Linked DNA regions of Homo sapiens. The protein of the gene in region 2 interacts with the protein of the main gene of each other region in a pairwise test. Each region holds a gene or a part of one and is shown on either strand. Other genes may lie near its edges.

What was found.
Region 1: the proteins of USP48 (region 2) and DRD3 interact in a two-hybrid assay, tested with the Homo sapiens proteins (one study listed by BioGRID).

What each region holds. Positions count from the first base shown.
Region 1 is NC_000003.12:114,141,040-114,148,067, reverse strand, and holds part of DRD3 (D(3) dopamine receptor), read left to right. Parts: intron 1-510; coding exon 511-653; intron 654-7,028. UniProt on the Homo sapiens protein: Dopamine receptor whose activity is mediated by G proteins which inhibit adenylyl cyclase. Promotes cell proliferation.
Region 2 is NC_000001.11:21,703,132-21,710,159, reverse strand, and holds part of USP48 (ubiquitin carboxyl-terminal hydrolase 48), read left to right. Parts: intron 1-3,291; coding exon 3,292-3,416; intron 3,417-3,570; coding exon 3,571-3,693; intron 3,694-3,972; coding exon 3,973-4,034; intron 4,035-4,322; coding exon 4,323-4,433; intron 4,434-5,767; coding exon 5,768-5,898; intron 5,899-6,541; coding exon 6,542-6,648; intron 6,649-7,028.

The DNA of each region.
Region 1 (7,028 bases), on a different chromosome or scaffold from region 2:
CTTTCTGCTATTTTTGACCTTTCTGCTTTTCTCTCTTCCTCTAACTAAATTATATTTCTCATGCTATATGTATCAACCTGATTATTTCTCTACGAACTTCTTTCATCTGGTCTTTTGAAAAGTTCCCCTCACTGGACTTGGTGGCTCACGCCTGTAATCCCAACACTTTGGGAGGCTGAGGCCAGAGACTTGCTTGAAGCCAGAGAGTTGCTTGAGCCCAAGACTTTGAGACTAGCCTGGGCAACAAAGTAAGACCCCATCTCTACAAAAAAATAAAATAATTAGGCAGGCGTGGTGGCGGCACAGGCATATCCTAGATACTCAGGAAGCTGAGGTAGGAGGATCTGATCCCAGGAGTTGAACTGCAGTGAACAGTAATCATGCCACTGCACTTCTGCCTGGGTGACAGAGTGAGACCCTGTCTCCAAAAACAACAACAACAACAACGCAGAAAGAAAAGTACCCCATTCCATCTCACCATGCCTATCCCCTCTCCCCTTGCTTTTTCAGGTACACTGCAGTGGTCATGCCCGTTCACTACCAGCATGGCACGGGACAGAGCTCCTGTCGGCGCGTGGCCCTCATGATCACGGCCGTCTGGGTACTGGCCTTTGCTGTGTCCTGCCCTCTTCTGTTTGGCTTTAATACCACAGGTAACAGTGATGGCTTCATTTCTAGCATCCATGTGATTCACAGCACAGCTGAATGACTGGCTGTGAGTTGTGCTCAGCCCTGCAATTTCTGACCCCCGGTCAGTGTACTTTGCAATTAAATGAGAATGCCACAGAATGCAAAGCTTTGGCCTTTGTGGGTTATAAATAAAATATAAAGCAAAACCTCATCAATTATTGGCACAGGGGGTAAAGTTCTGCCCCAATTAATGAAAAGTCTGGCTCATCTTTATTTTGAAAGAAATGTCATTGTATTCATTTGCAGAAATGTACCAGTTAAAAAAACCAAGATATATATTAATAATTCAGGCAAGGTTTGCTAATAAAAAGATAACAATTCATAACAGACCTACAATGCAAAATAACACATTGTAAAAGTCTTATAGTAGGATATATACTTCTAACTTTTTACTCAATAAGAATAATTTCCAATTCTTCAGAACTAACCAGTATAGATTCCCAAATTCCTGGAGAGTATATTTTCTATTTTTAATATAAAAATTCTGGGTATGATGGTTGGCACATGGTACATCTCCTGGGTGGATGGATGGATGGACAATATATATGTCTGAAATGCTCGGGATTTTAAGCATGACACCAATACCTCAGATGAATCAGTGCCTTCTGTGTTTGTACCATGTCCATCTTTTAGCCTCACTAATTTTTTTTCTTTTTCTTTTTCTTTTTTTTTTTTTTTTGAGACCAAGTCTCATTCTGTCACCCAGGCTGGAGTCCAATGGCACAATCTAGGCTCACTGCAACTTCTGCCTCCTGGGTTCAAGCAATTCTCCTGCCTCAGACTCCCAAGTAGCTGGGATTACAGGCACCCACCACCACGCCCCACTAATTTTATATTTTACCCTGTTGGCCAGGCTGGTCTCAAACTCCTGACCTCAAGTGATCAGCCCGCCTCGGCCTCCCAAAATGCTGGGATTACAAGTGTGAGCCACCGCGTTCGGCCAGCCTCAGTAATTTAACGTGTCGAATGAAAGGTATTAAACCACATAGTAACATGATGGGTATTGACAATATACACTGCGTGCTAAGGAAAAGCTGCTTGATTAGTGTTCCAGTGGTCATCTGGATTTCTTATTTTGTCCATTTGAATTGATTCATTCAATGCCTATATTCCAGGTTTGTAAATGTCTAGTATATATGTACCAGTCACATAGCCATGTGCTTGTGTGTATGCAGATATTATATGTAACATATTACATATAAATACAGGCAAATTCTAACTTTAAGTAATCTTCCAAGTGTCATTTGCTGGACAATGATTTAGAAATCAAAATATATTTTGGAAGATAGGTATAGGCTCTGGAGTAAGTAAAATCTAAGTCCAAACTCCAAATCAAAGTCCAGACTTACTAGCTGTCTCTCCTTAAACAAGTTACTTAACTTCTCTGAGTTCCTCATTGGTAAATGTGGGATAAAATTACAGTGGAGCATACACTTGAGTGAATTAAAATAAGTAAACTTGATCTACATATTTAGTTAAGACATTTTTAATATTTATTTTTATATATGACCCCCTACAAATGAGCCCAGCAATTTCATCTCTAAAATTATATGTTCCATAGGAACTCTACAATATATGATATATTACTATATGTACCATACAACTTATTACTCTGCAGGGTTATAATAAAACCATGTATATCTTTACATGTGATTCAGATTTTCAAGGCAAATTTGGAGTCTATATAATTTTCACTTTATTTATTGACTTTAGAATCTAAGACTACATATAACTCCACTCCAACTTCTTCAGAGAGATTTTTGCCATTAAATGAGGATTAAATTGGGATAACATATGTAAATATGCCAAGCACGTACCGCCTACTCAAGGCTGGCTTGTTTCTCTGCCACAGTAAAGGGTAACTAGCCAACTTATCAACAAATATTTGCCTGTTCAACCCAGGCTATTCTCAAAATATGGTGATGTTATCTTTGCGTTACTGTTTACCTTTCATTACTTTGTTATTTTAACTGAATGACACTTTATACACACAAACATGCACACATTGCCCAGTACAAAGCAACATCCCTTAACACAGCTACAGAGGCTGACTCTGTGGCACTAAAATATCATTTTTCGTGAATGCTAAATGTGCTTTATGAGTTAGTCTGATAACTAAGTCACCTTCTGTAACCTTGTTTCTATATGAAAATGCATTCTTAGTTGGAAATTCTAGTGTGGGAAACTCACCACTGCTAGACCAAGGCACTTCTTACCCTCTAGCCAAAAGCAAATCCCTGCCAACATCTGCTGGGCTGACTGTGGTTCCCCTGACTCATTCTTGGTGGAGGCGGTCTTATTCACTCTCACAGACACACCACACTGGAAACAGTTGAAACAATCTCAAAAGCTGACATTAGACTGAGTTCTCGGTTAATGTCGACATCCAGAGTGAAGAAGAATGATGAATTTGCAGTGTTGTTGCCCCCAGTGAGATCATTATTGTTCCAGAAACAAAATTCAGGAAAGTTTTTTCCAAAAGGATTTTTAAGTATAGAATTGAGAAGGCAGAAAAGGCCTGTGACTTAGTATGTGCGCTCTCACTTCTCTCTCGTCTCTCACAATCGCTCTGTCTTTTACATTTAAGTTTATTAATAGCACTCTAGCAAGCCTTCCAATTATTCATATATTGTGTTAAAGTGTCAGGTTCCATTGTAAGAGCTCAGTAGATATTAGCTGGTGTTATGGTTGTTATTATTTATTGGAAAAGTTTATACATCAAAATGTAACTATACATCTGCAGTCGTAAGAGTTCTGCTGATGGTTTTAGAGATCAGTCGCCCCTTCCTAGAACACAGTTAGGGGATTTAGTAAGTGAAGCTCAGGCCCAGCTGTCCTCCTCTGCCTCAAGCTGACCTTCACTGTACAGCTTCATTATCTTGATAGATGTGGGTTCCTGCAGCAATTCTCTCATCTATAAGGAAGTTCCCAACTTCATTTGAAAGCCCAATATAAAGGACTCTTCTCAGTCATTTTTTCTACACCTTCTGTGGAAAATCAAGGGGGAGAGGGCAGGATCCTGCCAATAACACCTGATATTGGAAGCAGCTGGACTTTCACTAATAAGTGCAACACAAAAAAAGAACTTTCTGGCAGAGCTCTTCTTTTAATGCCATGGGCTGCCACACGAAATTGTGAATTATTAGAGAACATAAGATACAGAAAAGTTGAACTTCAGTCTCTTCCAACTTGGAGTTGCTCCTGTTCTCAGATGAAAGGTCAATATGAGGCAGGGTTTTGGGTGAGAGAGTTCCGAGGCAGGGGCCTGGCTGGCCAGGGTTGCCTTAACTCCCAGCAGAGGCCCAGCAGTCTAGGCAAATATCACATCATCAACAGACCCTGATACAGCAGAGCATGGTGTGCTGGTGCCAAAGGAAACTCTGAAGATGCCTGAATGAGCAGCCCAACCCTTTCATTGCATAGATAAGAAAAATAACTAGTATTTAAATTCCTGCTAAATCAGAAAGCTATTGTGTTATTTTTAAAAATCTAGAATGAATAAGCAAAGAGTGAATAAGCTGATGATAAGAGTTTAAGAAATCTTCAAGGGAGGAGAAACTTAAAGTTAAGAAAACTCTATCAGCTGGCTTGATTTTCCTTTGAAAGAAGGAAATGGAGGAGTGCTATTTATTTGATTTCATCAATAGAACATCTCACCTAGTTTTCAGAGCACTGGAGCTAGGTTGGGGGAGGGGGAGCTTAGTTGCACAAAAAGTTAAGAGAATAGTAGAAGCACAAAATTAAAAGAATAACAGGCCCATCCTAAAATCAGATTCATTGGCACCGCATGTCTTTGGAATCAAGCTGGGGTCAAATCCATCAATGAATTTGAAGTTCATGAATCTTTCAAGTAAACCTGCTCTGAGCCAAGCTGTCCACATCATGGTGGGTCTCAGTTTCCCAAGACAGCCTGCAAAAGCCTCATAGATGCCTTTGTCTTTTTCACCCAGCACAGTGCTTTAAACATAGTACGTACTCCACAAAATTTGTAGAATGAGTAAATAGATGACTCTTCATCATCATCCTTTCTTCCTGAAATGTTGAGATTAGTTGGGATAAGCATCTCTAATCTCAGAGGAGGAGTAACCTCCCCTCCCCCGGCACAGGCCTTCTCCATTATCCTCTGGTCAGTGAGTGCTCATGTGTTTATATAAAATGCTCATTTGTACATTTTGCTCATTTATTTATTATTTATGCACTTGCTCAATAACTATTGTGCTAACAAAACAACACTCTTGCAGTTAAATCATCAAAACAAGGCACCTCATCTCCTGGGGAAGTGTCAGCTTCTGGGGGGCATTACAGCTTTCCTTACCTCTTTGGTACACAGCAGAGAAGGTTTCAGAACTGCTGCTGTGTGGTGCATCACTCTGCCCTGCCAACAGGACACACACCCAGGGCCAGGCCTGCTGGGGGCTGGGGCAGGCCCTACTCATTGGCCACCCACCTCCAGTGTCACTCTGCCTGCAATGGGGACATTCTGGAAGAGGCTGCAATGCTTGATCTAAGAAAGGGAAGCTGTTTGCTTAGATAGGGGAGGAAGGAAGAGATGGCAATGCAGGTTCTGTGATTATATGTGAGAGCCTTCGTTGACTAGGGACCCTGAAATAGCTATATGCCCTCTCAACTCTCTCTTTCAATATTTTTAATGGAGAAATAAATGCTTGCACATAAAACATTCATAAGGTGCCCATGAGATACATACATACTTATATGTAGGTCTCCCTTCTACCCCAGATTACTACATTCTCCCATCTCCCTCCCTAGAAACAAACATTAATATTCTTGCAAGATAATGCTTGCAACAGTGTGCATGTCCATACACAAATATGTTTATGTATGTGTATGTGTATTCATTATTACACAAATAGAAGCATACCATACCCCTATCTGACCCTGACTTTTTAAAAGAAGTAGCTCATATATAAAATTTAGAGGTCAGCCTCCCAGAACCCAGAGTGGGTAGGAAAAGGTAGAAAGTTAGGTGGAGGGACCAACAGGGAATATCCGGGACACCAAGGATGACAACAAGATGGGCAGTGCCACCCCACTGGCCTCTTCTCACACGTGAGACATGTGAAACGCCTCCTTATCACAGGCAGGTTTTAAAACCATAGTCAGATGCTGACAACAGAAAAGCTGACTTCAGAGAAGGAGCAGATCACCACCAACGTGGCTCCCTAGAGATTCTGAAAGACCACGCACTGCCACCCTATCCCTCTCCCCAACTCCATCACCCCCAAATACCAGCAGATGCCAATTTGGTGAACTACACAGAGCCTATGAGCCATTTTCTTTTCTTTTCTTTTTTTTTTTTTTTTTTTTTTTTTGAGAGAGAGTCTCGCTCTATCGCCCAGGCTGGAGTGCAATGGCGCGATCTCAGCTCACTGCAACTCTGCCTCCTGGGTTCAAGCGGTTCTCCTGCCTCAGCCTCCTGAGTAGCTGGGATTACAGGTGTGTGCTACCACACCGGCTAACTTTTGTATTTTTAGTAGAGACGTGGTTTCACCATGTTGGTCAGGCTCGTCTCGAACTCCTGACCTTGTGATCCACCTGCCTCGGCCTCTCAAAGTGCTGGGATTACAGGCGTGAGCCACCATGCCTGGCCCCTATAAGCCATTTTCTAAAGGATGATGACATAGGCTTTGGTGAAACAACATGAAATTTACCTGAATTTTACCTCCTCTTCAGAGAACCAGAGAATTTAGGAGTAGCTTGTAAAGATTCTAGTGGCAAAGATGTCAGTAAAATGCATCACTGGTCACTGAGCACACTCTTTTCGTTTTAGTTCTTAGCTGTTATTTCCTTCCTTCTCCCACAAATATTGCTCCCTATAAGTCTGTCTCCAAATTCCCATTTCAGATGTTACCTTCCCTTTCAGTTCAAAAGGCTCAGGGGAGAGAAATAATAAATAATAAATAAATAAATATTAAGAATAGCTACCATTTATTCTCATTAATTCTCACAACTACTATACAATATTTCTAGGCTTTTTCTTTTAACAGGTAATAAAACTGAAGCTTTGCATATTTAAGAAATGTGTCAGCTGGGTGCAGTGGTTCACGCCTGTAATCCCAGCACTTTGGGAGGCCAAGGAGGGTGGATCACCTGAGGTGGGGAGTTTGAGACCAGCCTGACCATCATGGAGAAACCCCTTCTCTACTAAAAATACAAAAAAATTAGCTGGGCATGGCGGCCCATGCCTGTAATCCCAGCTACTTGGGAGGCTGAGGCAGGAGAATCGCTTGAACCTGGGAGATGGAGGTTGCGGTGAGCCGAGATCGAGCCATTGGATTCCAGCCTGGGCAACAAGGGCAAAATTCCGTCTCAAAAAATAA
Region 2 (7,028 bases):
TTAAAATTTAAGAAATAACATGTTTCATTGCAGGATACAAGTTTAATTTCTAACAATTTATGTGTCCCAGTGAAAAGAGCAACCCAAATTTATTTAACTATTTTGAGGTCATAGACAATATTCAAGTATATTTACTTCATTATCATTCATTACATTAATTTAATTAATTGTATTAATATTCATAGTTAATATTAATGATATATTAACAACTACTATGGTAGTAATTATTAGAATAATAGGAAATTATATTTAGAAACTCAGCTAACAAGTAGAGTGAAGGACTATATATTTTTATTACCAACTAGACTACAGTAAAATGACTATTTAATATTATTCTGATCTCAGAAATGAATTTGGGTTGTTCTTTCCTTGTCATATGAAAAACACTCATCCCACTTAAAAGCCAGTCACTACCTAAAAGTACCCCCACATCAGAATGAAGCCGTGCACCCACAGTGTCTGTGGTCTCCTCTGCTCATTTAATAGTAAAGTTTGTGTGTGCATTCCCATTATTGTTTCCTCATAACCACATGGGGTTATACCACACACAAAGAAGCTCTCTTTTTTTTTTTTTAAAGCATAAAAAGGAAACCATTTAAATATTGTAGTTGCCGTGGAGTTCTTTCCAAATCAGGTCATGGAAATCTACCTTAATCTTTTTTATGGTTACGTTGTATTTCACATAAGGACTTACTAAGTTAAGGTTTGATAATCCAATTAACCTTTTTCTTTCATTTTTAAAAATAAATTCCCTAATTGTGTCTGAGGATGGGCACGTTAGAATAAGTTTTCATAGACTCACGGGAAATTTAAATTAACAGCCCACCCAGAAGGAAATACATGTTTACATTCTGACCCCATTTCTCTGGTAACAAGTCTGTTAAAGCAAAATAATCTTTTGGGGATTATTCAAAGATCCAGAAGAGGTGAGGGGTAGAAGTTAAGTTGCATTCTGAGGTATTATAAATTATAGGGACCAGGCATAGTGGCTCATGCTTATAATCCCAGCATTTCTGGAGGCTGAGGTAGGACGGTTGCTTAAAACCAGAAGTTCGAGAGACTCCCTCTCTACAAAATAAAATATTAGGCGGGCATGGTGGCTCATGCCTGTTAGCCAGACTACTCAGGAGGCTAAGGCAGGAGGATCGCTTGAGCCCAGGAGGTCGAGGCTGCAGTGAGCTATGATCGTGCCACTGTACTCCAGCCCAGGGGACAGAATGAGACTCTGTTTTCTTTTCTTTTCTTTTCTTTTCTTTCTTTTTTTTTTTTTTTTTTGAGACGGAGTCTTGCTCTGTCACCCAGGCTGGATTACAATGGTGCGATCTTGGCTCACTGCAACCTCTGCCTCCCGGGTTCAAGCGATTCTCCTGCCTCAGCCTCCCATGTAGCTGCAATTACAGGTGCACACCACCACTCCCGGCCAATTTGTTTTGTATTTTTAGTAGAGACAGGGTTTCACCATTTTGGTCAAGCTGGTCTTGAACTCCTGACCTTGTGATCCACTCACCTCAGCCTCCTAAAGTGCTGGGATTACAGGCGTGAGCCACTGCCCCCGGCCTGTTTTCTATTAAATAAATAAATAAATTTTAAAATATATTATGGGGTTCGAATGAGCTATAGACCTGGGTTTGTTTGTTTGTTTGTTTGTTTGTTTTTGTTTTTTGAGACAGAGTCTTGCTCCTCGCCCAGGCTGGAGTGGAATGGCACAATCTTGGCTCACTGCAACCTCTGCCTCTTGCATTCAAACGATTCTTCTGCCTCAGCCTCCTGAGTAGCTGAGATTACAGGTGCCTGCCACACACCTGGCTAATTTTTGTATTTTGAGTAGAGACGGGGTTTCGCCATGTTGGCCAGGCTGGTTTCAAACTCCTGACCTCGTGATCTGCTCCCCTCAGCCTCCCAAAGTGCTGGGCTTACAAGTGTGAACCACCAAGCCCAGCCTCAGACCTAGTTTTGTTTTGTTTGTTTTGTTTTGTGTTGTTTTGTTTTGTTTTTTTGAGATGGCGTCTCTCTCTGTTGCCCAGGCCAGAGTGCAATGGTGGTTATCTTGGCTCACTGCCACCTCTGCCTCCTAGGCTCAAGGAGTCCTCTTGCCTCAGCCTCTGGAGTAGCTGGGACTACAGGCAAGCACCACCATACCTGGCTGATGTTGGTATTTTTAGTAGACGCAGGGTTTCATCATGTTGGCCAGGCTGGTCTCAAACTCCTGACAAGTGATCCACCTGCTTCAGCCTCCGAAAGTGCTGGGGATTACAGGAGCAAGCCTCTGTGCCTGGCCTATAGACCTGGTTTCGTATCCCAGCTTTATTACTCACTAGCTGTACTCTGCCTGGTTATATTCATCTTTCTAAATTCATTTATTATGGAAAGTGTAGTATGTATTTAGAAAGCTCATGGCTTTATTACTCTTAATAAATCTGTAGGTACCTTGCCAATGGGTGCAGAAACAAACATATGACTTTAGAAATTTAAAGATAGTTTTCTGGGTAATGACCGATATGGGTAGATAAGTGAAGTTCACTAACTTACTGCTTGGGAACAGCTGAAACAACAGTAAGTATAACCACAAGTAGAGCCAGAGGAGAAAGGTCCTGGCAGGGTGGCGGTGACTAGTATTATTTTTTTATATCTTCTGGGATTTTTGAAGATTGAAGGGGATCTTCAAAATAAATTGCAAATAGCAAAGAAGTTGGTGCTTGACTGGAGATGGTTTTCAGATTGAGCAGTAGATTGCTTTATCTTCTGTTTGAATTGATAACTTTGAATTGATAACTTAAGGCAGTGGTCTTGTGATGGCTGGACACAGCTTACAAAATATTATTTTAATGCAGTGTGATTTCAAGATTAGTCAAATGGGAGGCAATAAAGTCTGCAGGAAATGATAACCTTTGAGTGTGGGAGTAGATGTAATTTTGTTAAGCAGCGCTTGCCATGGCACAGAGGTCCCAGGACTCCTGGAATCCCATTTTTGACTACTTCCTTCCTTGCAAGGAGAAAGAAAATGCACGGTTTTAGCTTTGTACGTTTGTTTTTATCTCATGATTTTTTTTTCAATCACAGACCTAGATTAAGGACGTAAAATTGAGGTTAATGGCTACCTCCTTTAGAATTAAAATGAAATCGGAAATTCAGAAGTTTTTGAAAACAAGAAAAGAGAGCTAGAAATACCAAACTTTAGCAAAGCAAGAAAAGCGTACCTGTGGATTTTTCTTAAGTTTAAGAAATAGGAAATAGATAATGACTTTTTTTCAGCTGTTTTTTTTTTTTCCAAATATATTTTTTTAAACTCAGGTGAGTTATGCATATCTGAAAATGAAAGAAGGCTTGTTTCTAAAGAGGCTTGGAGCAAACTGCAGCAGTACTTTCCAAAGGCTCCTGAGTTTCCAAGTTACAAAGAGTGCTGTTCACAGTGCAAGGTACTGAACGCTACTGACATCTGGGGAAATGGCATGCCACCTCCCTGGGTTGACTTCCCAGGGGAATTAACACTGTACTTCTGACGGGGGTGTAGGGAGGAGGCAGGTCATGTGCTGTCAGCAGGAGACAGTTGATTGCTTCATTCTCTTTCAGATTTTAGAAAGAGAAGGGGAAGAAAATGAAGCCTTACATAAGATGATTGCAAACGAGCAAAAGACTTCTCTCCCAAATTTGTTCCAGGATAAAAACAGACCGTGTCTCAGTAACTGGCCAGAGGTATAATGATTCCCACAAAAGAAAGAATGCATCTTTTCTTTTTAAAGCCCTTGCCAAATTCCCAGTGAGCTATTTCAGAACAACCCAGAACTTCTCATATTCTCATTTGTTTAGTTATCTAACCAGGGGATTTACTCCAGCCTGCTATTTTTTGGTAGAGGACTGTGTTTTCATTTTATTTATAAAACTTGAATAAGGACAACCAAAGTATATTATAAGGAATTTGTGTTAAGCAGGCGGTGAATTGACGGATACTGTTTTGTGATTTTTGTGTTCTAGGATACGGATGTCCTCTACATCGTGTCTCAGTTCTTTGTAGAAGAGTGGCGGAAATTTGTTAGGTAGAAACAAAATATGTTTTATTTCCTTTATTGTTACTGATTTGGTTGACTCTGGTATTTTTTAAGATATCGTGGATTCTGTTTGTTGTACCCTTCCTTCATGGTTACTTTCACCAGCATACACTGAAAGCTTTCTTTTCTATTAATTAAATGAATAAGCCTAAGAAACACATTGAATTACTAATATTTTCTTAAATATATCTCTGATTTTGAAATAATTATTTTAAAATCTTCTCTTTCGTCATGCAGTAATTAGGTATATTTCTCCTCCTTGTCTCATTTGAGTAGAAAGCCTACAAGATGCAGCCCTGTGTCATCAGTTGGGAACAGTGCTCTTTTGTGTCCCCACGGGGGCCTCATGTTTACATTTGCTTCCATGACCAAAGAAGATTCTAAACTGTGAGTTCCTTCTCTTCATGTGATTTTTTTTTCTTCTTTTCTCTTTTTGATGATTAATAAAATATGTTTAGGAAATTTCTCATCTGACATAGTCTGTTTTAAGAATTTAGTCCTTTGCTGAATTGTGGGGTTTTTTTTTCCCCTTTTAAAAGAGAAGAAGACTGCTTCTCCAGGAAAGACAAGAGGCTGCCCGAGGCTATTTGTCTTTTTGCTCTTTCCTTGTCCCTCTTGAAGACAACACAGCCACCCTTTCTCTTCCCCCGCTGCTGGTGACCAGTGCTGAGACCTCTTTTCCAGAATCACAGAATCAACATGGTCTTGGTTATAGGTTTTGTTCTGCCATGGCCAGGCTTCAGACAATTAAAGGAGGAGGCTAGCAGGGTGGCAGAGCAAAGCCACTGCACTGGTCATCTGGAATTCTAGGGTCTTAGAACCCAAATTTTATTCCATGCTTCAAGTACTTCCAGAGGTGTTCATCTGTGAATTTCTCCCGATTTTACCAAAAATCGTGATATACGAGAAGGTAGAATGCTTCCAACATTGTCAGAAAATCAGGAAAAGGAAATTGGAACACATAAATAAAAATGCCCTTGGGGTTAAGCTAGAGTTTTATTATTCATATTTCAGTACTTTAACATCATTTAAGGGAGTTCAAAGTTTATATATTCTCTACATTTTCTCCCTCCTCTTTCTCTCCCTCCCTCTCTGCATCCCGCCTTCCCTGTTGCTCTCTCACTCTCGCTGTGCATCTCTCTTCTCTTTCCTCCCTCCCTTTCTTCCTGTCGTTGTTATTGCAAATGTCAGACTTCCAGGAAAATACACCAGTAAGCAAATGTGTGTTACCATTCAGTTTAAAAGTTAAATGGTTCAAATATGATTAAAGGCCCCACAGTGCTTATCCTTCTGTTGCTACTTCTCTTTCTCCCACCCTTCCTCTCACACTAACCACTGTACTGAATTTAGAGTTTATCTGTCTCAGAAAGTATTCTGTAAAAAAAAAAAATGCACGCACATAATGTCTTGCATATTTAAAACTTTTTATATAAATGGCACCATACTGTATTTATACTTCTGCAACTAACTTATTTTACTCAATTATGTTTTTGAGATCTAACCATGTTGATTCATGTAATTTCAGTCCATTTAGTTTCGCTGCTGTGGTAACATTCCTTTGTATGAAAAACTATTCTTTGTTGATGATACGTATCTTTTCTCTCTAATTCCTTTGGATTAAATGTTAGTGTTAATGGTTTTGGTTTAGCAGACTAATGGATTATGTTAATTCTCTTAATTTCCATGTGTCTTAAGGCATGTTGTGTTTTTTTTTTGCACAGTATAGCTCTCATATGGCCCAGTGAGTGGCAAATGATACAAAAGCTCTTTGTTGTGGATCATGTAATTAAAATCACGAGAATTGAAGTGGGAGATGTAAACCCTTCAGAAACACAGTATATTTCTGAGCCCAGTAAGTTTTCATATTGCTTTCGGTTTCTATAGTTAAGAGCTGACATTTTAAGAAGAAAGGGTGTGTCAGTGTTGTCTGCTTAAAGTTAAAGATCATGCGGCGGTCCCAACTCCCTAGGTGGAAACTCTCATTATAATCATCCCATTATTTGTACGTTTATTTATGGACAGTAAATGGATTTCCTTATCATTTGCATGTAATAGAATATAGTGGTTAATAGAAAATATTATTAAGAGTTTGGGCCAGCACACTAGCTCATACCTATAATCCTAATACTTTGAGAGACTAGGGTGGAAGGATTGCTTAAGGCCAGGAGTTTCAGACCAGCCTGAGCAACATAACAAGACCTTCTCTCTACAAAATAATAAAAATGTAGCACATATCTGTAGTCTTGAGCTACTCGCTGAGAGGCTGAGTCAGGAGCATGGCTTGAGCCCAGAAGCTTGAGGCTACAGTGAGCTATGTTCATACCACTGTACCCCAGCCTGGGTGACACAGCAAAACCTTGTCTCAAAAAAAGAAAATGTTACTAAGAGTTTAATGAATATTCACTAGTAACTTTGACATATGTTTTTAGATCTTTGATTCTTTAACAATGATTCCTCAGCCACTTCTGTTTTCCCTTTTTTTTTTTCCCCCAAAGAACTCTGTCCAGAATGCAGAGAAGGCTTATTGTGTCAGCAGCAGAGGGACCTGCGTGAATACACTCAAGCCACCATCTATGTCCATAAAGTTGTGGATAATAAAAAGGTACTGGTCCCTCTTGTGGCAATGACTAGTAATGATCAAGCGTGCTCTTTGGCTTGATTTGCTGTTGTATTTGCACTGAGGGTCTGCCTAGGACTGCATTTTTGTTCCTTCAGAGCTGTTTGGCATCAGAATTGAAATTGGACAATAATTGAAAATGAACAGTTATGTGATTATATGAGAATTTAGTTTGTTATTAATTGATGCATAGATATTTACTGAATGTCAGCTGTGTTCCAGGAATGGTCCAGGTGCTGGGGATACAGTGATAAAGAAGGCAGGTATAATACCTTCTCTCAAAATTATAGGCACCTAGTGAGGAAGATCAGGAATAAAGTATAAATTCATATGATTTCACACAGAAATGATTGTTTTGAAGGAAC